Linked DNA regions of Homo sapiens: all the other regions are linked to region 1. The links come from fine-mapping of genetic effects on gene expression. A gene starts in region 1. Each other region holds a variant in brackets. All regions are shown on one strand. Distances are between the middles of the regions.

Region 1 (7,741 bases):
CAATGTGCTGTTCTTTATATACATTGCAGTGTTAGTTCTGAGTGGTTGGCAGTGAGGCATAAACTTTGAATCCTCCCTGCACTCGCCCTCATGTACTTCTCGGAGTGACATTTGCAAAGGCAGCAGATTGGGAGTGAGAGGTGCGGTCTCTGGTGATGATGTAATTAGTCCATCCCATCATCATCACCGTCAGAGGTAAGGGACTGCCTCCTACAATGACCATTACTCCAGAATCTCAATCTCAGAATTATGAAATGCTCATACCTTTGACATATTTTTTTTCATCCTTTCAGTGAACCAGTAAACATTTCACATTCACAAGGCAAGGACAAGTGTCAAGGTTCTAGTTTGTGTTAGAAAGTGGACTCTAAAGGTTTTTGGCCCCTGTCGATGGTGCTCTGTGGAGGAGGGCAGATCCTGTGAAGGGTCACAGCTGAGCTGCAGGCAACAACCATTCTTGCTGTGGAACTGCAGCAGCTGCAGCTTGGCACTGTCTGGGCATTAACCAATATTCCAATAGCCAGAGATTGCACAAGAAAACTACCTCCACCAAAGGCAAATGTTGGAATGGGGGATGGGGAGATCTCAAAATCTTTCTCTTTTTATATTCTATTCCCAGACTCATTAGCCTCCTCTCTTACCTTCTCCACCCATCCATCTCCTTGACAAGATTATTGCGACGAAGGAGTTAATGAGTACACAGTTTTATTTTCCTTGGAAGAGAGATAGAAAACAGGCTCAAAGCAGGGCTGTCATCACCCTGCAAGTCTTCAGGGGTTTCATAGCTAATTATTAACCCTTTGTCACATTCCTGGACAAGAAACTTTCCTGCTGAAACAACCTGCTAAGATTTTCCATCTACATTATACATATGGGCTCTCAGTTTTTCAGAGTTAACAAATCAATAACACCTTGAAAACAATGAGATGTAAACAGTTTATAATGCCCCTTTGGTCCTTTATCAAAATGATCCTTCTTTACTCACTCAGCACCCAGGTCAAGTACCATTATCCTTGTTTTCTATTTTTCTTTTATATATATATTTTTTTTGAGATGGAGTTTTGCTCTTGTCACCCAGGCTGGAGTGCAATGGTGCGATCTCGACTCACTGCAACCTCCGCCTCCCGGGTTCAAGCGATTCTCCTGCCTTAGCCTCCCAAGTAGCTGGGACTATAGGTGTGTGCCACCATACCCGGCTAATTTTTGTATTTTTAGTAGAGATGAGGTTTCACCATGTTGGCCAGGCTGGTCTTGAACTCCTGATCTCAGGTGATCCCCCCACCTCGGCCTCCCAAAGTGCTGGGATCACAGGCGTGAGCCACCGTGCCCAGCCCCTTGTTTTCTATTTGAGAAAACTGAGGCTCCAAGACAGAAAATGACTGGTCAAAGGTTTCACCCATAACAAGGCCTGGCTGGAACCCAGCTCTCCTGAATGGTGACCTGGTGCTTTTTTAATGTATTGAACACAGTGTAAAATCTCACCTAACATTAAGAAAGCCCCTCTGAATCTCAGCATTCTTTAAAACCACTAAAGACCACCACCTAGAACTATAGCAAACTGGCACAAATTCAGTCCCCAGGAAGTTGTGTTAAAAAAAAAAATTCCTATGGTTAACCTTCTTTCTTGTTATTTTGTTATTTGCTTCTCTCCCCAATAGATTTCAGGCTATTTAGATTTTGGGTTCCTCTCTCAAGCATGATTAACTTAGGATGATTAACTGCTAGGGCTTCTGGAGTCAAGAGAGACCTGCAGAGATTCTCACTGGGGTTTGATTCCATGCTATCCCTGGGGTAGATGAAAATGAACTGGAAAATCTAAAATCCCCGGATGACTCATTTAAGGAATAAGCATTTAGAAAGATCAAAGTTGCAGTGTGAGGAAAATAAGGACCTACAGCACCCAAATCAACTGTTGCTCTGTGCTGAATGGACCAAGACTTGCACTTTTATGAGCAGAGACATAGATTCCCTTAGACATTTGCTGTTGTTGTTGTTGAGATCTCCTTCATCTTAGGTGGTGGCTGCAGATGAATTCCCCCCTGAGCTGGATATCACTGCTCTCCAAGTTCACACTCTCATTGCAATCACAAGCAGGTTGCTAGTATGTGGGCAAACTTCCATACATGGTATGGGGAGCAGACATGACTTCATGCTTTGCTGTAGACGAGAGGAACTGCCAAGGCTTAGGCGCCCTGTCCCCCCAAGTGTGCCCCGGCTTTGGAATCCTTTTCTCTGGCTGCATGGTAACCAGACCACAAGGGATGCTTTAGATTTGTGGGCACTCCCTCACCTTGCAGATTCTTAAATTCTATCCTCCAGAAAACTAAGATTCCAAAAAGGCATCTCACAAGTACACCCATACACATTTGAAAAAACATTTTACAAGAATTACCCACTTTTATAGTACTAGAAATGAGACAAACCTGAAAGATAATTTTAGGTCAGCATCTCAAGTAGTTCAATCAGTTCAATTCATTTTTTGCTGCATATGCTGTTTTATTGTGGGGTGGGGACAGGGAGGATCTGACAGTTTCATTTCAGGAAACGGCTGTGGGTATTCTGCATCAAATTACTGTTTTGTGTTCTTTGTGTAAAACTTAAACACTGACTGAGAGGACTTCATAAATTTAGGGTCTTTTTAATTCCATTCCCACTGCTTATTATTATTATATTTACCAAAAGGGATAGAACAAAAGGACATATTTCTTCTCGTCCAGATGGAAGGTGTATGTTTATTTGGATTACATATGAAACATAAAAGCTGGTTAAAGCTCTGGGTGGGATGGGTCAGGTGCAGCATTTTTCTGATAATATTTCTTGGGAATTAGATTTGAATTGATTTACCCACATATTTGAGCACTGCTTTGGGCATCACTGCTGAGATCATGCAAAATTAAACAAGAAAAAAATGAGGCGCAATGAATTCAGAAGGGGAAGAAGGAAAAAGGGGAGGAAGGGATAGGAAGATCACATTTTGGCTAAAGAAAAGAGGTGATCTTATGGCTGAGGGAAAGTTTAACACATTTAGTGCATCTCAATTAAAGCAAACCTCTTAGATTGTGTCGAAAATGGAATAAACCCTTTAATTTTTTTTTTTTTTTTGCCTTTTTTCCCTAAGGTTCAACTTCTCCTCTTTACCTCCCACCCCACCCCACTTCCATAAAACACAACTCAGATTTAATGTTCTGGAGCAAATGTTTTTCAACAGACTTGACCTGCTTAATCTTCCTGACAATGTGCGCAGTTATGTTAGTAATTTGCATACTCTTGGGAAGGGATATGAGACACTAGCAAACCAAAACGCCCAGAGGGCAGCTATATGTTACAGTGGTAATCTTTTTCTTTTTTTCTCAATGTGTGTATGTCTGCTTAATGTTACCACGTACTATCGTAACACACTACTACTATGGTCTGATCTTTAAGAGCAAAAGTTAGAAGCTTTGTTAACTATTATTTCTCCTTTAACTCTGTCTCTTACGAATACACAATGGCTTCTTGAAAATTATCTTAAAAAGACTCTGATTAAAACAAAAACCCAATGACAACAACAAAGCAACCCCTTTATCAAAGGCTGCAGCATTTCTAGAAGTACCCTTCAACTCACTAGCTGGGAAGGAGAGTGCACTTTTTTTTTTTTTTGAGACGGAGTTTCGCTCTGTCACCCAGGCTGGAATTCAGTGACAATTCAGTGACAAGTCTCTGCTCATTGCAGCCTCCGCCTCCGGGGTTCAAGCAGCTCTCCTGTCCCAGCCTCCCGTAGCTGGTATTACAGGTGTGCACCACCACACCTGGCTAATTTTTTTATTTTTCATTTTTAGTACAGACGGGGTTTTACCATGTTGGCCAGGCTGGTCTCGAATTCCTGACCTCAGGTGATCCGCCCGCCTTGGCCTGCCAAACTGCTGGGATTACAGGCGTGAGCCACCACTCCTGGCCGAGGGTGCACCTTTGAGACTAGGTTTCTGCAGCACACATTCATTTTAGTAATCAAGGACATATTGCTGGATTTAGGACGTGAAGAACAAGTCAGGAGCAGATGCTCCAGGCTGCTCGAGGAGGAAGGGGACCACGCCTAATGAAATAACCAAGGATGTCCCAGTCAGGAAGAAATGTGTTAAGTTTTAAACCTGTGTCTTCGCTTTTGGAAGGAACCTGGAAAACGGACGCGGGTTTGCTTCTAATCTGCAGTCCTGCTTGCAGCCTGAGGAGGACGTAAAAAGCCTTGGGGCCAGACAGCCCCAAAACGGGGGCGTTTTACCCTCTTAACTTTCTCTCCCCTTCTTGACGCAGAGGGCGTATCTTCACGCCTCCTTTCCCCAGCCCGCGTTCCCGTTCTCCAACAACAACCTGCGTGTCTCCTTTAAGAGGCGGGGGCCGTCCCTCCCTTTCTCCTCCCAGTCTCCCGCCCTTCACACCTTGGGTGGGAAAAGAGTGTGGGGGCGGGGTAGCCGGTGAAGCGGGAGGGGCGGGATCACAGCGAGCGCTCCAATGGCCCTCGAGGCTGGCCACGGTGGACTCCGGCAGCCAATGAGCAGCAGGCGGGGAGGCGTGGCGGGGCGCTGTTGCAAAGCATCCAACGTGGGCCAGCAGGCGGCCGCGGAGCGCGGAGCCTAGGGGGTGTGTGCGGGCGAGCGGCCGGGGGCGGGGCTTGGGGGACCGGCCGGGGCTGGGCCGCGGGGAGGCGAACAGCAAGCGGCTGATTGTTCGGCTGCGAGGTCGGCGGGACTCTTGCTGCGCGGAGGAGCCGTGCGGAACCCGAGGCTGCGCGCGCGCGCGCGCTCTCTGGCCGCGGCGTGGGGACAGCGAGGCGCACTGGGGCCTCCCAGCGCGGGGCCGGCCGCGCCGTCCAGCCCGAGGTCTACGGCTTTGCGCTCCGAGCCCAGAGGAAGATGCCTGCCGGCACCGAGCTCGGGCTGCGGGGCTGAACGCCTGTCTTCCAGGCGCAGCGGCAGCACTGCCCTCGGCCGGTGTCGGTAGCGGCACTCGGCGTGCCCCGGGCGGACGAAGAGCGCAGGCTGGGTACACCTTGCCCGAATCGGCGGAGTTCGCAGCTAGCGCGGGCGGGCCGGCCGGCCCGGATGGGCGCGGGGTTTGCGGCCCCCGCCGGGTGCTCCGGAGCGGCCCGGGCACCGGGGGCACGCTGAGTGCCGGAGCCGCGGCCGCAGAGAGAACTTGGGGCGGGGGCCATGCCCCGGTGCGGAGTCTAGAGCCGAGCGGAGCGCCCCGCGGGCCCGCCCGCGTCTGCGGCCGTTCGGGTCCTCACAGTCCCCGCGCCCGGAGTTCGCAGCGCGCTCCAGACAAGATGGCGCGGCCGGTCCGGGGAGGGCTCGGGGCCCCGCGCCGCTCGCCTTGCCTTCTCCTTCTCTGGCTGCTTTTGCTTCGGCTGGAGCCGGTGACCGCCGCGGCCGGCCCGCGGGCGCCCTGCGCGGCCGCCTGCACTTGCGCTGGGGACTCGCTGGACTGCGGTGGGCGCGGGCTGGCTGCGTTGCCCGGGGACCTGCCCTCCTGGACGCGGAGCCTGTGAGTGCCGCCCTTTCCGCCCTCTCTGCGCCCCGGGGCTCTGTCACTTGGGGATGGAGCGGCGGGGGTTCGTACTCAGGGAGGGGGTGCGGACTGGGTTGTGTGTGTGGAGTTGTGCGTGCTTGTGCGTGTTGGAAGACTGTCAGGTTGGAGTGGCGGAAGGGAGATTCTGCGTGGAGGTCCGGGGGAGTAGGCGTGCGAGAGAGCCTGGAGAAGAAGAGCGTGCCTCGTGGGGTCTGGAGACGAGCGAGCGTGGGTCGTAGAGATTTGGGGGTTAGCCAGCACGCGTCGTGCGGGCCATCTGGGGGTGAGTGAGTGGGAGTCTGGAGCTGAGTGTGTTTGCGGGTGGGTGGGTGGGAAACGTCTGGAGAAGAGTGTGAAGAAGTCTGTGGGGGTATGTGGGTGCGTTTCCTTTTCCTCTCCTGTAATCCAACTATTTGGTGTCTGAGCTCCTTGGTCTTCCAGTGGGTAATGAATGAAGGTGACTGTTGGGTCCAGTCTTTCGTTTACATTATTTATTAGTTGATAGTGTGTGTAGCCGTCTCCTGATCCCCGAAGACCGTGGTGGCCTGACTTGCCTCTCTGTGCGGGGCAGAAGGCAGTCTTCCCCCGAGGACCCCTGAGTTAGAGGGCTTTGACAGTTCCTGGCGACCTGTGAGTGCTGGGAGTTTGTCCTTTTACGCCTGTTTGGCATTTTACGGAACTGTGTTCCAGACCCTTCCTGTGTGTTCCCTGGGGCCCCATTGGGCTTGATGATCCAGTGGGGTGGGGCCCACCCTCAAGACTCTCTCCTCCATAAATGGTGCAAATGAGTTTTGGAGAAGTGCTGCTTCAGGAGAGGGTGCCAGGGGCTTGGCTGATTTAAGCTGTTTGTTTCACCCGAAAGAGGTTCTTTTCTGTGCTGTCAGGATGTGGGCTTATTAGGACTTAGTGGGACACTTCTTACAGGAGATTTGACAGGAAAAAAAAGGCATTAGACTTCTGTGTAAACATGGTAGAATAGAATAGTCTTCTTTTACTTCTAACAAATCTGGTGCATGAGTCAAATCCCGTTCAGTTATGGGTAATTAGCATCTCTGTAGAACCATTAGTACCTTTCCAGAAAAGGCCTAGCTTAAATAGTCCGCATTTCGGTTGAATAATTGGACATTTTTCCTAGAACATAGGAAAGGCACAGCAGTAACCTTAGGCATGACTATGGCTGTTTTAAAAAGAGAAAACTGGTGTCACAAGTTGTAACCAGCACCTGTGGCTTGATCGAAGAAAATGTGGCCTGTGTTCTGACTACCGTGAAGGGAAGAAAAGTTAATTCCTTTTAAATGTAAAGATCCTGTACCTCTCAAAATGGGGCACGAATCTTTAACTTGGCCCGAGACACTGCTCCATGAACAAGTACTACAGAGTTCTGAAGACAACCAGGAACCCTTTAGTTACAGTTAGGTTTTCAATATCTACTTCTTCTGTGGAATTTACTGAGTTAGTGAAAATCAGTGGTCGTAGGGTGGAGGCAGAGCTTTTGTGAAGTACTGGGAGATAGAGCCCAGTATTGTCCTTAGGTAGTCTCTTATTTAGTCTGGGGTATTGTGATTTTTCCCTTACATACGGTAGTTTTTTTTTTTTTTTTTAAATAGAATCATGTGGGCAAAATCAGATTAACTTCTTAAGTGTTCACCTGTTGGAAGAGTGACTCCCAATGCCATGTGTCAGTGGCATTGTGGGGAAAGCACTTAGTTCCACAGAAGTAACTTCCCAGAGAGGGCAGGGTGTCCTCTTATTTGCACTTTCCTATGGTCACAAGATCCACTTTGCCTTGCCCTTTAATTTTTGGAGCAAAACATACTGGTTATTTCTTTAGGCTTTCTGTTGCCTAGGAGTGACATTTCACATGGCATAAATACCTTCAAAATTGAAGTCCTTCTCTTTTACTCACACATTTGATGATCGAGAAATACCAAAGTGGGTATTTTGAGCATCAGTAGACTTTAGTATACTGATTATGGTGTTGACTGATTCGATTTTAAGATATGAGCAGCATGATTTCTGGTTAGTATGTAGCAACACAGTATGCAGTGCAAAATGGCTATCCTTTGAAAAATATTTGTGAAGTTTTCTTATTTCTGATTAAGGACAAATCAAGCAAATGTGTTCTTTTTTTCTAGACTTCAGACTTCTGAATTTAAATCATTAGTCTCCGTGAGTCTTATTCTGGAATTTCCATAAG
Region 2 (7,741 bases), 110 kb after region 1:
TGTTGGGAAAGGTTTTGCCTTGCTGAGCAGGCCTCAGCCCAGCTTTGATGGTGCCCTAAGGCTGGCTTGGCTCCTGAGTCATTCCATGGGCTTGTGTTGCGATTTGGGAAACAACAGCCACTTATAGTAGTTAGGACACAGGTCTGGCTAGTCCCTGTGGGTCATCTGTGAAACCAGGACTGTCCTGAAAACCCCTCAGGTGTACCTAGGGTTTCTTTGCATAAGTAATGTATGTTCTGTTTCAGGAACCTTGGAGGGAATGCGATCAGATCTGTCCAGTTTGATGCCTTTGTGAAGATGAAGAATCTTAAAGAGCTGTAAGTATCTGGATTCCCTGGGTCTGATTAATGGTAGTGGAGACTTTCAGAGTAAGAAACTTCTGCAATTGCATTATGCTCACTTGTTAAAAGTTCACATGGTACATATTTTGGATTTTGTGGGCCACAGAGTCTCTGTCATGACTACTTGATTGCATCATTGCAGCAGAAAGCAGCCATAGACATTACATAAGCAGGTGGGTGTGGCTATGTGCCCATAAAGTCACATTGACAGAAGCAGGCAGTCGGGCCGCAGGCTGAAGCTTGCTAACCACTATTCTAGGCAATGTGAAATATACTCTCCTCTATAAAGTGGATAATCACCCCTTCAATTATGTCAGGGCCAAGTTTTCATCTTTTGGGCTTGCTTACGATAAAGGCCTGTGTTGAGAGGGTCTACTTCAGAGCCTGGTGGGCTGTGAGCAAGGCAGAGCTCTGGAGGGGATGGGATGCTTAGGGGTGCAGTGGTGTCTGCCCATACCATTTCCAAGCTTTCTGGGCACGGTTCACAGGTGGTGGTGCTGCCACTGTGGACTTGGACTGTGGGCTCTTGGGTGACAAGGTTGGAAAAGCTTCCCTGTATCCTACTCTGGCAGGGGAGCTAGTCTGGGTCCTCAGGTGTAACACCCAAGTTTTCCTTTCTGGTTTTTTTTTTTTTTTTTTAGCTAGACATGAATCTGATTCTACAGCCAGTAAGTTCTAGCCATGATATCAGTTCCCTGAAGGGGTAACTTTTGGTTCCTAGAAGTGCTGACAGAATGGCAGATGCCACAGGACAGTCATCTTTGTGCCCTGACCTCATCCCCATTCCCCGAGGCCACTCTTGATGAACCCTCAGTTGGGGCAGGGAGGCTGGGACTGGGGAAATGAGGTGCATTCCCCATAGCTGGGAACTGAAGCGGGCCGGGTGACACCAGACTGAGTGAGGAGGGAAGGTGGCCTGGGCACTTGCCCTGTGATGTTCAGCATGCTGTGAGCCTCAGGCCTGCTGAATAGATACCGTCCTTGCAAGGGTTGGATCTTGGAGCGGGTGTCTGTGACGGGTTCATGGAGCTCAGGGCTCTGCAGACAGCTGCTCCGTGCCCAGGGCCTTCCCTCTTCCAGCCTCAGCAGCTCTGCCTCCATCTGTCGGGTGAGACGGAACATACAGAAAGGATTCCATGGCTCTCCTTCCAGAGCAGGGGAGGAGATGATTCCAGACCACCGTGGAAGGGAAGGCTGGACTCAGAGGTGGACTCGCAGTAAAGCAAGTGGAATGAAACATTGGTTGTAGAAGACAAGCGGTGGGGCACAGGAGCATTCACTGTGGAATTCTTTCACCTTTTCTGTCTTTGAAACTTTCAGATATGATGTCAGGACTGAAAAATACCTGATTCAATTTAAACGGGAAGAAGGTATTTTGAGAGAAGGAGGGAGGAGGATAAGATTTTCCTTGGGAAGTTGGGAGGAACTGGACCCTTCCAGAAGCTTGGACCTCCAGCGTGCTTCTGCATGGTTCTGGAGGCTCAGCCTCGGTCTCCTGCCTGGGTTTCCCATCGTTGCTGCATATACCTCGCTGGAGCCGGCCCTGTGCCCAGTCCTCAGATGAGAGAAATGGTTAATTCCACTTGGTCGTCTTTTTCTCCATCAGATCAAGTCAGGTTGTACTGTGCACTTAGTCATCCTCTGGGTAAATTTCCACAAGTGATGATTAGAAACACACTTTGAGTTGGAATCGTGAAAATGCACCATGTGAGCCAGCAAAGCCCTGGGATGGCAGCAGAAGGCAGTAGAGCCGATGGCGCTGTGCTCTCCACGGGTGGAAGAAGGGCGGCAGGAGCCTGCAGAGCCTAGGGGTTGGAATCCTCGCTACTGCCTGGCCCCAGGCCCTCCCCATGTATCCTCTCAGTCCTAACTTGCTGTTTAGGAACATGCTGTCTCCACCCTGAGTACCCACTGTCTTCCTGGAGTCTGGCCTCCTGTCTGAGGTGGGTTTCATGGTGGAAGAAGTAGGAAATCCTCAAAGGCGTTAGCCCCACACGTCCAGGGCGTGTGTAGGATGAGGCTTAGCCCTTTCTACATGTGTCTGATCAAAGATAAATGTCAAATTTGTTTTCCCGTTTGTTCCTGTGGTTCAAATGGAATATGTCCTTGTGTCCTGCACAAATGCTTAACGTCGCACAGGGATGGCCCAGCCTTCTCTCCTAGGCTTTCGTGAACAGTGCCCAGGCTGTTCTGCCTGACTGCACGGAAGTGCCCTCTTGCTGGGGAGCTGGAGGTGCTTCTGACAGCGGAGAGTTCTCCATCCAGGCTGAGTTCCCCCCATGCCTGGCGCAGCCAGCCCTGACCCCCATGCAGGGTGCACTCCTGGGAGCTGCCCTCCCCAAACACTGCATGGGAATTGACCATTTCCTCAGGGATGGCCGTTACAGCCCTTCCGCCACCTGCAGTGACTCCACAGTAGGACAGCCCTCCAGATGGCTCTCAGCAGAACGCTACCTGCCCGTGAAATAAAAATGCAAACTCTCATGCTGATTTTAAGATCTAATATGGGCCAGCATCCCAGTTATAATGGCCTTGAGATAAGTTATTTCTGTTTTTGGAAAAGCACTTTCCAAAATTATAATTATTTTAATAAGATGCCCAACTCATCTAGGGGTGATGGGGAACATGAGGAAGAGTGGATTTTACTTAATTTAGCCTTGGGTCATCTGCTTACACTTCATTCTTCCTTGCTGTGACAGTTTCTCTGCTCATTAGAAATCTGGAGAGAAACAGAAGAAAATGGAAGGCCAGTCCATTTGGTTGCTTTGTTGATGTCTGAGGACAGTGGTGGGTGGAGAAGGCAGCCAAAGTCGTGCTCTTGGCCTGCATGATGTTTTTGGAATTTCTGCGCATACCTGTGCCTCCTGTTTGTCACCATGTACCAGAGACAGTGTATTGCAGGGAAGCCTGTGTGCTCTCTTTCCCAGTCTTCCCTTATCGTGGGCCAGCCATCATTCTTTAGCTCACAGCTCTGAGGTCTTCCAGGAACAAGGCAGCTAGACTCTTGGTTGACTTATCTTCAAGTGACTCCTCAGGAAGGAATGTCCGCTGAGATGGCGATTCCGATTTCTGTTTAAAAAGCTTATCCTTAGTTGCTGAGAAATGAAAAAGAAAATATTCTCTGTTTTGGTTGGAGCCCCACAAAGCTAAAGTTGTGCATTCTCATGCTCCCTGGGCAGTGGCAATTAACTAACAAGCACTATTTAGGGAGCAGAGCCGAATTCTGCCGGCCCCCTGAAGAATACTGGTGCAAAGATCAAGGCACAAACAAGAGGGTGGCACAGTGACGGGGCTTATTACATTTGGAAGTAAGAAAACATGCAGCTTTGCCAAATGGAAAAGGAACAGCCATGAGGCAAAAGAGCCCTCCTCGGAACTTGTTGCAGAATTTGGATCAAAGTCTCAGGCCGAGTTTGGAAGCTCCAAGTAGTTTATCAGGAAAGTGGGAAAAACCAGAGGGGGGATGGTGGCAGCATAGCACTGTTGGATGTATCAGAGGTCAGGAGAGGTCAGAAGGCAGCCCAGGGTCACACAGGAACAGTGTCTGTCCCAGAACATGGCATGGATAAGCTCCACGTTGCTGCTGCTCCAGTTGCGGTCCTTGGGTCAGCAGCCCCAGCATGATACGTGAACTTGTTAGCAGAGTCGTGGGTTCCACTCCTGACCCACCCAATCAGCAACTGCATTTTTTCAAAATCTCCAGGTGGGTTATATGCACTGCCCTGGGAAATTGGAGAGGAAGTGTGAGAAAAACCATTTCCCCCTTCCAGCTTGCTGATGTTCACTTGAGAAGCTGATTGGAGGCGACTGATCATTGTGTGTGTGAAGGGAGTGTCCCTCCTTTGCGGCTGCACCTGAAGCATCCACTGTTGTGTTTCTTTCAGCCATATCAGCAGCGACAGCTTCCTGTGTGACTGCCAGCTGAAGTGGCTGCCCCCGTGGCTAATTGGCAGGATGCTGCAGGCCTTTGTGACAGCCACCTGTGCCCACCCAGAATCACTGAAGGGTCAGAGCATTTTCTCTGTGCCACCAGAGAGTTTCGTGTGCGGTAAGACTGTCTTTGTAACTTTTTCTCTCCTTCATGAAGGACAAGGAAGCCAGGAGGTACTCTTCATTATGGGAGTAATTCCTGTGATCAGAGTAAACCCCAGCCCGTGGTTACAGATCAGCTGCTGGATGCA[A/G]TTTATTTCTTGCTGAAACCACACACAGTATTTACCGTAGAGTTGCCTCATTATGTGGTTCTTGGAGGACATGCATTTAATCAGAAGGGAGTATAAGTTGGTTCAGTTACAAATCAGAATAATCAGTTACAGGAAGATAGTTCTGTTGTTTCAGAAGGGCTCTGGTGCCCGGGTTTAGCTGCGAATGTACTCCGCGTACGAGGCTGGCGTTTTAATGTGTGTTTCTTTCCGACCCCAAGAATGAAAGGTTAAATACAGGAAGAACAAGTCTCAGGAGAACAGTTGCTGTAGTAAAAATAATTCCTTGATGTTGACTTGTACTCTTGCTGTTTCTCCAAACCACTGAAATCTGCACTTGCAGCTTTACATTCTTTTTGCCTTCTGATTCCTGGAGCGTAGCTCTTGCCATCTTTTTGACTGGGAGTCGGGATCCAAGTTTGGTTGCAGAGAGCACAGAAAATGCTGAACAGCTGAAAACACACACGCAGGCTAGCTCAGACAGGACTGACACAGGCTCACGGTCAGGAAGACATGGTCAAAAAATGAGATGAATTTTGAGTTTTTCCTGTTTGCTTGCTCTAAGCAGGAGCAAGAGTGGGATTCCCAGGCCTGACTGGAACTGCTGGGCAGGTGTTAAGTCCCTCCTGCCTTTTGTGCTCACTGGTCTCCCTTGAGCCTTGAGATCCCTGCTGTGAGGATCCTAACCAGGAACTCACCCATCCATATGGCAACCCTTGTGGGCCACTTCTGTCTCCTACTTTCTGGCCATAGCAATAGCCATTGTGCCTGCTGGAGTAGCCAGTGTGCCTGCTGGAGGCAAGATGTGTGTGCCCTCTCCATGCATCCACCCCTACCTTCACCATCACCACTTTTGAGAACAGGCCTGCTGAACTTCCTCTGGATCCAGACCAGGGACACGTCTTAAACCCACTGCGAACATGGCAGCAGCTCTCCAAACTGACTTTTCATACCGATCTGTCTTATGGAGCCTTCTGTGTGGAATCTAATGCTCGCACAGCTCCATTATCCAGGCACAAAATGGCTGTATAATCCATTGTTCATTGGCCCATTGTCATCAAGTCCTTGACCCTTAAATTGTTTATAGACCTCCCTCAAATAAAGCTTTCCATCGCTCCCTCCCCTTTCCTGCCATAGGGCAGGCTTTCCCTCTGGGTGAGCCAGGTAGGACTTTGGTAAGTTCACCTAGCCCCCAGCCTGTGGCCCTGGCATATTCTGGATTGCAAGAGTTGTTTATTTCACATCTGTCATCCCCACCCCCACATTTTAGCTCAAGCTTCCCCCCCTCTAAAAACGTCAGGTGTTAATGGGAATCATGAAAACACTTGGCAGAAGATCAAGGTTTCAGGCTTTATGGGAGTCTCCCACTCCTTTTTTAAAAACGGAAACATAAGCACTCCACATCCACTAGGACAGCTAGAATCCAAAACTCAGATAATAACAAGTGTTGCTGAGGATAGGGAGAACCCTCCTACACTGCTGGTGGGAGTGTAAACTGGGGCAGCCACTTTGGAAAACAGTCTCGGCAGTTCCTCAGTTCAACATCCAGTTACGACATGACCTGGCAGTTCCACTCTTGGGTGTATACCTAAGAGAAATGAATGTATATGTTCACACAGAAACTTCTTCATGAATGTTCATAGCAGCATTATTCATAATGGCCAAAATATGGGCACAACCCAGGTATCAGTGGATGACTGGATAAACAAAAGGTGGTATAGCCATACAATGGAATATTCATTAGGCTGTGAAAGCAATCAGTAGTCCTGCAACATGAATGAACTTTGACAATGTCATGCTAAGTGGAAGAAGTCAGCCACAAAAGACCATTAGATTATATGATTCCATTCATAGAAATGTCCAGAATGGGGAAATCTGTGGAGGTAGAGATTAGGTTAGTAGTAGTTTAAGGATGGGGAGGGATGGAAAGAGAGGGGTAATAGCTAAAATGTACAGCATTTCTTTTTGAAGTGATGAAAATGTTGTAAAATTGACTGTAGTGATGGTTGCCCATATTGGTGAGTATACTAAAAACCATTGAATTGTATACTTTAGATGAGTGAGTTGTAGTGTAGATGAAGTATTCTCAATAAAGCTGCTTTTAAAAAGAAATATAATTTATATATCATAAAAATTTACCCCTTTAAAATATATAAATTGATGGTTGTTATAATAGTCACAACTGTGTAACCATCACTATTATCTAATTTTAGAACATTTTTATCACCACTAGAAGGATCCCCATACCATTAGTAATCACTCCCTATTCTCTGCCCCCAGGCCCTTGATAGCACTAATCTCATTGTGTCTCCATCATTTGCCTATTCTGGGCATTTAATATAAATGGAACCATACAGTATACGGTCTCTTGTAACTGGCTTTTCTCACTTAGCATAATTTTTAAGCATGTATCAGTACTTCATTCCTGTTTTTCATGGCTGAATAAATGGGTTTACATTTTATTTATCCGTTTATCAGATGATGGACATTAGATTGTCCCCACTTTTTGGCTATTATGAATAATGCTGCTGTGAAAATTCATATACAGGGTTTTGTGTGATTCTCTTGGGTACAAACCTAGGAATGGAATTGCTGGGTCATACGCTAACTCTGTGCTCAGCTTTTTTGAGGGACTGCCAAACTGTTTTCCAGAGTGGCTTCATGATTTTACATGCCCATCACCAATGCATGAGAATTCCAATTTCTCCCCATTTTTGCTAGCATGTGTTATTAACTGTCTTTTTTATTTTGGATGTACTCGTGAGTGTAAAATAGAGTCTCATGGTGGTTTTGATTTGCACTTCCCTAATGATTAATGATGTTAGGCATGTTTTCACCTGCTTATTGGACATACATATATATATATATCTTCTTTGGAAAAACAGCTATTTAAATCATTTGCCAGTATTCATTTGTCTTTTCAATGTTTAGTTGTAAAGTTCTTTATGTATTCTGGATATGAGACCTTCATAAGATACATGTTGTGCCAATATTTTCTCCCAGTCTGAGGGAGGGCTATTTTTCATTTTCTTGATAGTTGAAATGCAAAAGTTTTTAATTTTGGTGAAGTTCAATATCTCTATTTTTTCTTTTATTACGTATGCTTTTGATGTCATATCAAAGAAACTATTTGCCTGAGATAAGGTCACAAAGATTTCCTCCTTTATTTTCTTCTAAGAGTTTTATAACCTTAGTGTTACA
Region 3 (7,741 bases), 120 kb after region 1:
GTAGTAAAAACTCCTGTCTTAAAGCCTATTTTGTCTGTTAGTAGTATGGACACTTTAGTTCTCTTTTGGTGACTGCTTATTTGTATCTTTGAATCCACACTGTGTCTCTTGTAGGCTATAGCTGGATCATAGTTTTTTTTATCCATTATGGTAATCTTTGCCTTTTGATTGGAGTGTTTAATTCATTTTCCTTTAATGCATTTACTAATAAGGTAGAGTTTGCCCCTTATTTCTTCTATGTGTCCTATCTTTTTGTTTCATTGTTTTTCCAATACTGACTAGTTTTTTTATTGAAAAGATATTTTCTGTTGTACTATTTTAATTCCCTGTTTTTTAAATACACGGGTATTTTTTAGTTATTTTCTTAGTTTTGCCCATAGGAATTAAAATTAACATCTTACAACAATCTAGTTCAAATAAATAATGAAATTAACTTCAGTAATATGCAAAAATTATGTTCCTATTAAGATCCAGTTTTATTCCTTTGTGTTACTGTTGTCGTACACATTACATTTTCATTAAGCCCATCAACACAGCCTTATAATTACTGGTTTATGTAGTTGTCTTTTAAATCAGGAGACGCGAGTTACAAAAATACACGTATCCTGTGTGTTGTATTACCTGTGTAGTTACCTTTAATGGGATTTTTTATTTCTTGGTGTGGATTGGAGTTGCTATATGATGTCCTTTCATTTCAGCCATACTAAATACTCTCCTGGATTTCTTGTGGGGCAGGCCTGATAACAGTCAACTTGCTCTGTGTGTGTTTAAAATAAAAACATCGGAATGTTTTAATTTCCCCTTCATTTTTGAAGGATAGGTTTTTTAATACATAGAATTCATAGTTGAACGTTTTTCTTTCAGTAATTTGAATATCTTCCTACTGCCTTCTGTTCTCTGTGGGTTCTGGTAAGAAATCAGCCGTTAATAATAATGAAGATCCCTTGAATGTGATGAGTTGCTCCTCTTTTGCGTTTTCAAGATTCTTTGTCTTTGGCACCTGACAGCTTGACTATGATGAATCTGCGTTTGGATCTTTGAATTTACTCTACTTGGAGTTCATTAAGATTCTTGGATGTGTGGCTGCACATTTTTCATCAAATTTGGGGCCATTGTTTTGCAGATACTTTTTCTCTTCCTTTTTCTTTCTTCTCCTTCTTGGACTCCCATGATTTGTATGTTGTTGTGCTTGATGCTGTCCCACAAGTCTCTGTGGTTCTTTTCATTTTACCTCATTCTTTTTTCTTTGTTTCTCAGACTACATAATCTCAGTTGACTGTCTCAAGTTCCCTGCCCCCTCCTTCTGCCAGCTCAGTTCTGCTGTCAAGCCCCTCTAGTGAATTTTTCATTTCAGTTATTGTACTTCTAAGTTTCAAAATTTCTACTTGGTTCATATCTATAATTTCTCTTTATTGCTATAAAATTTTCTCATACTTTATCCTTTTTTTTTTTTTTTTTTTTTTTTTTGAGACAGAGTCTTGCTCTGTCACCCAGGCTGGAGGGCAGTGGCGTGATCTTGGCTCACTGCAAGCTCCGCCTCCTGGGTTCATGCCATTCTCCTGCCTCGGCCTCCCTAGTAGCTGGGACTACAGGCACCTGCCACCACACCCGGCTAATTTTTTTTTTTTTTTTGTATTTTTAGTAGAGACAGGGTTTCCCCATGTTAGCCAGGATGGTCTTGATCTCCTGACCTCATGATCCTCCTGCCTCAGCCTCCCAAAGTGCTGGGATTATAGGCGTGAGCCACCCCACCTGGCCACTATCCTTCGATATTTTTTTTAAGACATGGTTTCCTTGAGGTGTTTGAATATGCCTATAATTGCCGATTTAAAAAGTTTATTTAGTGAATCTAAGTCTGGGCTCCCTCAGAGACAGTTTCTGTTGACTGCTTTTTTTCCTGTTTGAGTGTTTCATAATATTTTGTTGAAAATTGGGCATTTAAAATAAAATAATGTGGCAACTCTGGAAATTGGATATTCCCTTTCTCCTCCCCCAGGATTTGCTGCTGTTGCTGTTTATTGTTACAGCTTGCCTAGTGACTTTTCCTGGACAAAGGCTATATAAAGTCCGTCCCCTTAAGTCCCTGCTTGTTTAGTTTAGTGGTTAGCTAATGGTTGGACAGAGAAGTCACCACAACCACTGTCTCCTATCCTTTACCGACGGCTTGTGTGTTTGTGTTGGGGTGTGCCATCACTTCCTATTTGTGTAGACAGTCATGCTCAGCCACAGGTGACAAATGAGGACCCCCTCACGTCTTTCCTGGGTGTGCACATGGCCTTGCACCTGCATGTGGCTGTCTAGATCCCCAGGAATGTATTGGACCTTTTCAAAGCCCACCATTAACACTGTATTCCCCACATTTTCCTTTATAGTTTTTTGGCCAGCTGCTTGTTTGCCCCATGGGTATTGTCCCCTCAGACAGCTGCGCTGTTGAACAGTGGCTACTGATTGTTGTAGTCATGTGCCCTGGGGCTAGGGCTTCTCCTGCTCGGCAAACTAGATCAGGGCAAATCAATGCAAATCCTGTGAATGGGGCTTTCCGTGTTGCTGCCAGATAGGCCACATGGTGTCAGTTCTGAGGATGGGGCTTTTGGGGAGCCCATTCTGACCCTTGAGTGGTTGCTAGGCTGCTGGGTTTCAAGGCTACCATGGAGCTGGGGAGGGAAGAATGGGGCTTTGGATAAGTTAAAATACCACAAAGCTCACATTTCTGAGATGTTGCTATTTGCTTGAATCAACAATCCATGGATTGTTGTAAGCCTTTGGTTTTCCAGAATTCTGAAAAAGTTGCTTTTGACCATTTTTCCAGGTGTTTTCCTTGTTTTAATGGAGGTGCAGATTTTTGGAGGTCCTTATTCTGACATTTTGGAAGTGTTTTACACCCCCTCCTTTTGGAGTAAGGTTTGTGGGTAAGATCTCTGCAGTCATGACCAGTGGTGCCTGACTGTTTTGTGTGAAAGTCAGCAGGCAGAGCCAGTTGTCTTAAGGAAACTGCCGGCTGGCTGGTTTGAGAACTGAGAAGTGGTGGGTTAATTTCTAATCAAGGAGTGTGATCATAAAGGTGATCAGTACTCACAGACTTCTAATTAGATGAGGTCAGATGTCCATGGTGCAACTCTTACGGCATCTGGTTGGTGGGGCTGAGGATGCACAGGGACCTCAAGCTCTGGTTCCTGCTTGGTGTCTGTGTCAGTTTCTGTTAGCATGAACAGCAGCTGGTTCCTCTGTGTACCAAGAACCCAGCGCTTTACAGTTGACCCTTCTCTCCCCAGATGACTTCCTGAAGCCACAGATCATCACCCAGCCAGAAACCACCATGGCTATGGTGGGCAAGGACATCCGGTTTACATGCTCAGCAGCCAGCAGCAGCAGCTCCCCCATGACCTTTGCCTGGAAGAAAGACAATGAAGTCCTGACCAATGCAGACATGGAGAACTTTGTCCACGTCCACGCGCAGGACGGGGAAGTGATGGAGTACACCACCATCCTGCACCTCCGTCAGGTCACTTTCGGGCACGAGGGCCGCTACCAATGTGTCATCACCAACCACTTTGGCTCCACCTATTCACATAAGGCCAGGCTCACCGTGAATGGTATGGAAACACCATCTTTGTTATAGTACCAGAATCCTACAAAGCACACTCCTGATTGCCCTTTCAGCTTTCCATGTAGAGATGACTGAGACAGGACACACACATGCTTCTGTGGGGCACTGTTAAATCCTATTGTTGCCTGGGTTTGCCCCAGAGCAAGTTTTGCAGATTTCAAGGGTTATTCACAATGAGTTACTTGTTTTTGGTGAGTTTTAAAAATCT[A/C]GTTATTGGCCGGGTGCTGTGGCTCATGCCTGTAATCCCAGCAGTTGGGAGACTGAGGTGGGCAGATCACTTGAAGCCAGGAGTTCGAGACTAGTGTGGCCAACATAGTGAAACCCCGTCTCTACTAAAAATACAAAAATTAGCCAGGTGTGGTGGCACATGCCTGTAATCCCAGCTACTTGGGAGGCTGAGGCACAAGAATTGCTTGAACCCAGGAGGTGGACGTTGCAGTGAGCCGAGATCACTCCACTGCATTCCAGCCTGGGTGTCAAAGTGAGACTGTCTCAAAAACAAAACAAAAACTAGTTATTAAGTCAAATTGTGGAGAGCTAAGCCTTGTTTTGTCCAGTTCTTATCCTCTATAAGCCAAGAGATCTGGCTTCCAAATTCCAAATACCCCTTAGCCTGGGGAAGCTGCTGTTCTTTGAGTAGATGGCACAGCATTGGAGTCAGAGGCTAGCTACTGCTCCAGAGACTGTGGAGTGCAAGGCTGGTGTGAGCCCTGGCCTGAAAGACACAGTGTCCTGGCAGTTGACAGGTTTTTACTCATTAACCAGCCTTGGAGCTTGTCAAGGGGACCATGTGTTATTGTGTGTTTGGAGGAGGGGGGTGGGGAGTAGATAGCTTGAAGAGTTTACTGTCCCACCCCAGTAACCTAATGGGGTTATCCTGATTACTAACTCTCTAGTTAAAAAGAATTGGCTTGAGAATCATCAGAATGGTGGATCTGCTTTGCTCTTTAAGCCCCCACAGATCACAGCGAAACACCTTCTTTACCACACTGTAGTGGGGTTGTCTTGGCTTATTCCAAGTCCTCACAGCTTCCGAAAGACTCAGCTGTTTGTTAGACTCTCCCCAAAATTGACGTTGACAGGAACTCTGGTGGTGCCTGACACGTGGCTGGATGCGTCCCACTCTGTCAGGACATCGATCTTTAGGCTGAGCAAGCTAGCAAGCTGAATGCTTCCTGCCTGGGTATACGGCAGTGGGCAGGAACAGCCTGGGTGAACAACCATCCAAATGGATGAGCCATCCCATTCATCCCATGAACACCCATCCAAACGGATGAGCCATCCCATTGCTCTCCCAAGGTGGAGGCATGCCCACCTTCCCTCTGTAATTCCATCTCCACAGCCTCTCTCTTGGTGGGTAAAGCAGGCAAGCATCAGGCCTACCTAGTGTGGATGGGCACCCCCTGCAACTCCCGTATAGGCACTGCCATGTAGAGTAAAAGCCTTTGCTTTGAAGGGACTATAGCCAGCCTAGGGTGTACAATGCAAGGCTGATGGGATGGAAGTGTTCCAACTGTGGTGGGAGAAGCTGGGGGTTCCTGATTCACAGGTGGCAGGAGTGGTCCTGGGCAGACATTGGGAGAAAAGAAGTGAACTGGCACTGGGCACAGTGACAGGTAGGTGTTTGCCAGAGGACTTCCTGGTTTTGCATCTAGCTGTCCCGTAACCCGACCCTGTATACGTATGTTTTCCAGTGTTGCCATCATTCACCAAAACGCCCCACGACATAACCATCCGGACCACCACCATGGCCCGCCTCGAATGTGCTGCCACAGGTCACCCAAACCCTCAGATTGCCTGGCAGAAGGATGGAGGCACGGATTTCCCCGCTGCCCGTGAGCGACGCATGCATGTCATGCCGGATGACGACGTGTTTTTCATCACTGATGTGAAAATAGATGACGCAGGGGTTTACAGCTGTACTGCTCAGAACTCAGCCGGTTCTATTTCAGCTAATGCCACCCTGACTGTCCTAGGTTTGCCTATTGCTCTACTGTGTGTGTGTGTGTGTGTGTGTGAGCGAGAGAGAGAGACTCTCAAATGCTCTGTGTGGCCAGGGGTGGTATGCGTTGTGGGCCTTTCGACCCTGTTTGAAATTTGGGGCTGCTTTTTGAGTTGAGTTAATTTTTCTTAAACAAGTGTTTCTATCTCTTTAAAAGAAATGATAGCTGGTGAATTAAGAGTCTTCATAGGGTTTAGCTACAGAACATTTTAAGAATTGGACAGGATGGATGTGGGCTTGGTCAAGAGCTACAGAACATTTTAAGAATTGGACAGGATGGATGTGGGCTTGGTCAAGAATAAGGACACAGGCCTGACACAGGACAGTTAGGGAATAGCAGGGGCTTTTGTCAGCAGAGGTTCACTGTCCCTGTGGAAGCCACTCCCAGCATGGAGATGACTCAGTCAATGAGTTGAAGGGTCTTCTCCAAAGCTTGCCACTCTGAGACAGAATCTCAGATGCATCTCATTGATATGTTGGATTGTCCGTTGTCCAGAAGACCGGGCAGAGCCAGAGCAACGGAGGCCCTGAGAATGACTAAGATCTCTGTTGCTCTCTTGTAGAGACCCCATCCTTGGTGGTCCCCTTGGAAGACCGTGTGGTATCTGTGGGAGAAACAGTGGCCCTCCAATGCAAAGCCACGGGGAACCCTCCGCCCCGCATCACCTGGTTCAAGGGGGACCGCCCGCTGAGCCTCACTGAGCGGCACCACTTGACCCCTGACAACCAGCTCCTGGTGGTTCAGAACGTGGTGGCAGAGGATGCGGGCCGATATACCTGTGAGATGTCCAACACCCTGGGCACGGAGCGAGCTCACAGCCAGCTGAGCGTCCTGCCCGCAGCAGGCTGCAGGAAGGATGGGACCACGGTAGGCATCTTCACCATTGCTGTCGTGAGCAGCATCGTCCTGACGTCACTGGTCTGGGTGTGCATCATCTACCAGACCAGGAAGAAGAGTGAAGAGTACAGTGTCACCAACACAGGTCAGGCCCTGCCAGCGGAGCTGACTTTCAAGGAGGGAGGAATGGCAGTGATGCTGGGGAACTGGGCCGGGTTCCAGTGGCTTTTGAAAGAATTGCACTGTGTTCAGAACTCCTGAGGGTTTAGTCCCACTAATTCCATTTTAACTTTGAGGAACTTAACCTTAAACAGGAATACTCTCAAATTTAACCTTAAACAGGAATACTCACAAATACAAGTAACTGACGCACCATGCAGTTTTCCCTCTCCTTGCTAACTCAGAGGCCGCCTATGCACAGGCCCTGCTGCCACGTAGTAGGTTGTTCCTGAAACAGTGCGGTACTTCTGTGAGCCCCGGCTTTCCATCACTGGTCTCCACTTCTTGTGGCGTCTGGCATCTGCTGGCTGCGCTCTTCACGCTGGGTGTAGAGTAAAGCTGAGCAGGCTCTGGGAGGGCCTGTTGCGTACATGGACTCCATGTCATCTCTCTGCACAGCGCTGATGGTCGTCACTGGGAGGATCCCCTTTCTGAGCTTGACAGTGAACGTGTGTCTGCATTTCTTGTCACTGAGACCCTGGTGTTCTATTTGTTCTGTCTCCTTGCAGATGAAACCGTCGTGCCACCAGATGTTCCAAGCTACCTCTCTTCTCAGGGGACCCTTTCTGACCGACAAGAAACCGTGGTCAGGACCGAGGGTGGCCCTCAGGCCAATGGGCACATTGAGAGCAATGGTAAGGCCTCAGTAACTGTGAAGCAGAGCTCTGCTGTGACTGTGTCTCTGGGTGCTGGAGGTGGCCTCCAGGTCTTTACAGGGCAGGTACCTGGCATTAGATGGGGCAAACTTGGTGAAGTAGAAGGCGGTATGACTAAGGGCTGCTATTTTGGACCCAGTCTTCATGAGTTCTGCAAGGTTTTAAAGTCCTGTCCCCTCAGGAAGCCACTGGATTGGGCTTAGCATCTCCCTGGCAGGATAAAGTAGGCTTGCCTGGAGTAGCAGCTGGAAAGGGCATTACGGTGCATGAACCCAGCCAACCCATTCCTTACATGGGGAACGTGCCCAGGTCTGCTCTGTGATCCAGTCTTACACTGGAAAGCTGTCACCAGGATGAGGTACTTCCAACGGTGGGGGCCTCTGAGCACTTGCCTGAGACTGTAGAGGCTCACCCTGAGA

The links. PIP is the estimated chance that this variant, and not a neighbour inherited with it, causes the effect.
Region 2: its variant is fine-mapped to the expression of LRIG1 in whole blood (TOPMed, PIP above 0.99).
Region 3: its variant is fine-mapped to the expression of LRIG1 in whole blood (INTERVAL, PIP 0.95).

The regions. Positions count from the first base shown.
Region 1 is chr3:66,497,969-66,505,709 of GRCh38, reverse strand. LRIG1 (leucine rich repeats and immunoglobulin like domains 1) reads left to right here and starts at 4,688. Exons shown (of 19, transcript NM_015541.3): 1 at 4,688-5,520. The coding sequence starts at 5,303. RefSeq lists silencers at 4,319-4,978, 4,999-5,138, 5,179-5,258, 5,279-5,488 and enhancers at 4,591-5,091, 5,092-5,592.
Region 2 is chr3:66,390,688-66,398,428 of GRCh38, reverse strand. It overlaps LRIG1 (leucine rich repeats and immunoglobulin like domains 1), which reads left to right. Exons shown (of 19, transcript NM_015541.3): 11 at 246-317; 12 at 4,226-4,389. Among named protein-coding and RNA genes, the nearest start is that of LRIG1, 110 kb to the left of the region's middle. RefSeq lists an enhancer at 4,772-4,821. The variant A/G (reference allele first, on the strand shown) is at 4,523.
Region 3 is chr3:66,381,833-66,389,573 of GRCh38, reverse strand. It overlaps LRIG1 (leucine rich repeats and immunoglobulin like domains 1), which reads left to right. Exons shown (of 19, transcript NM_015541.3): 13 at 3,273-3,593; 14 at 5,302-5,583; 15 at 6,173-6,592; 16 at 7,176-7,301. Among named protein-coding and RNA genes, the nearest start is that of LRIG1, 120 kb to the left of the region's middle. RefSeq lists enhancers at 2,522-2,581, 2,612-2,691, 2,702-2,871, 3,332-3,431, 5,878-6,377 and 1 more. The variant A/C (reference allele first, on the strand shown) is at 3,816.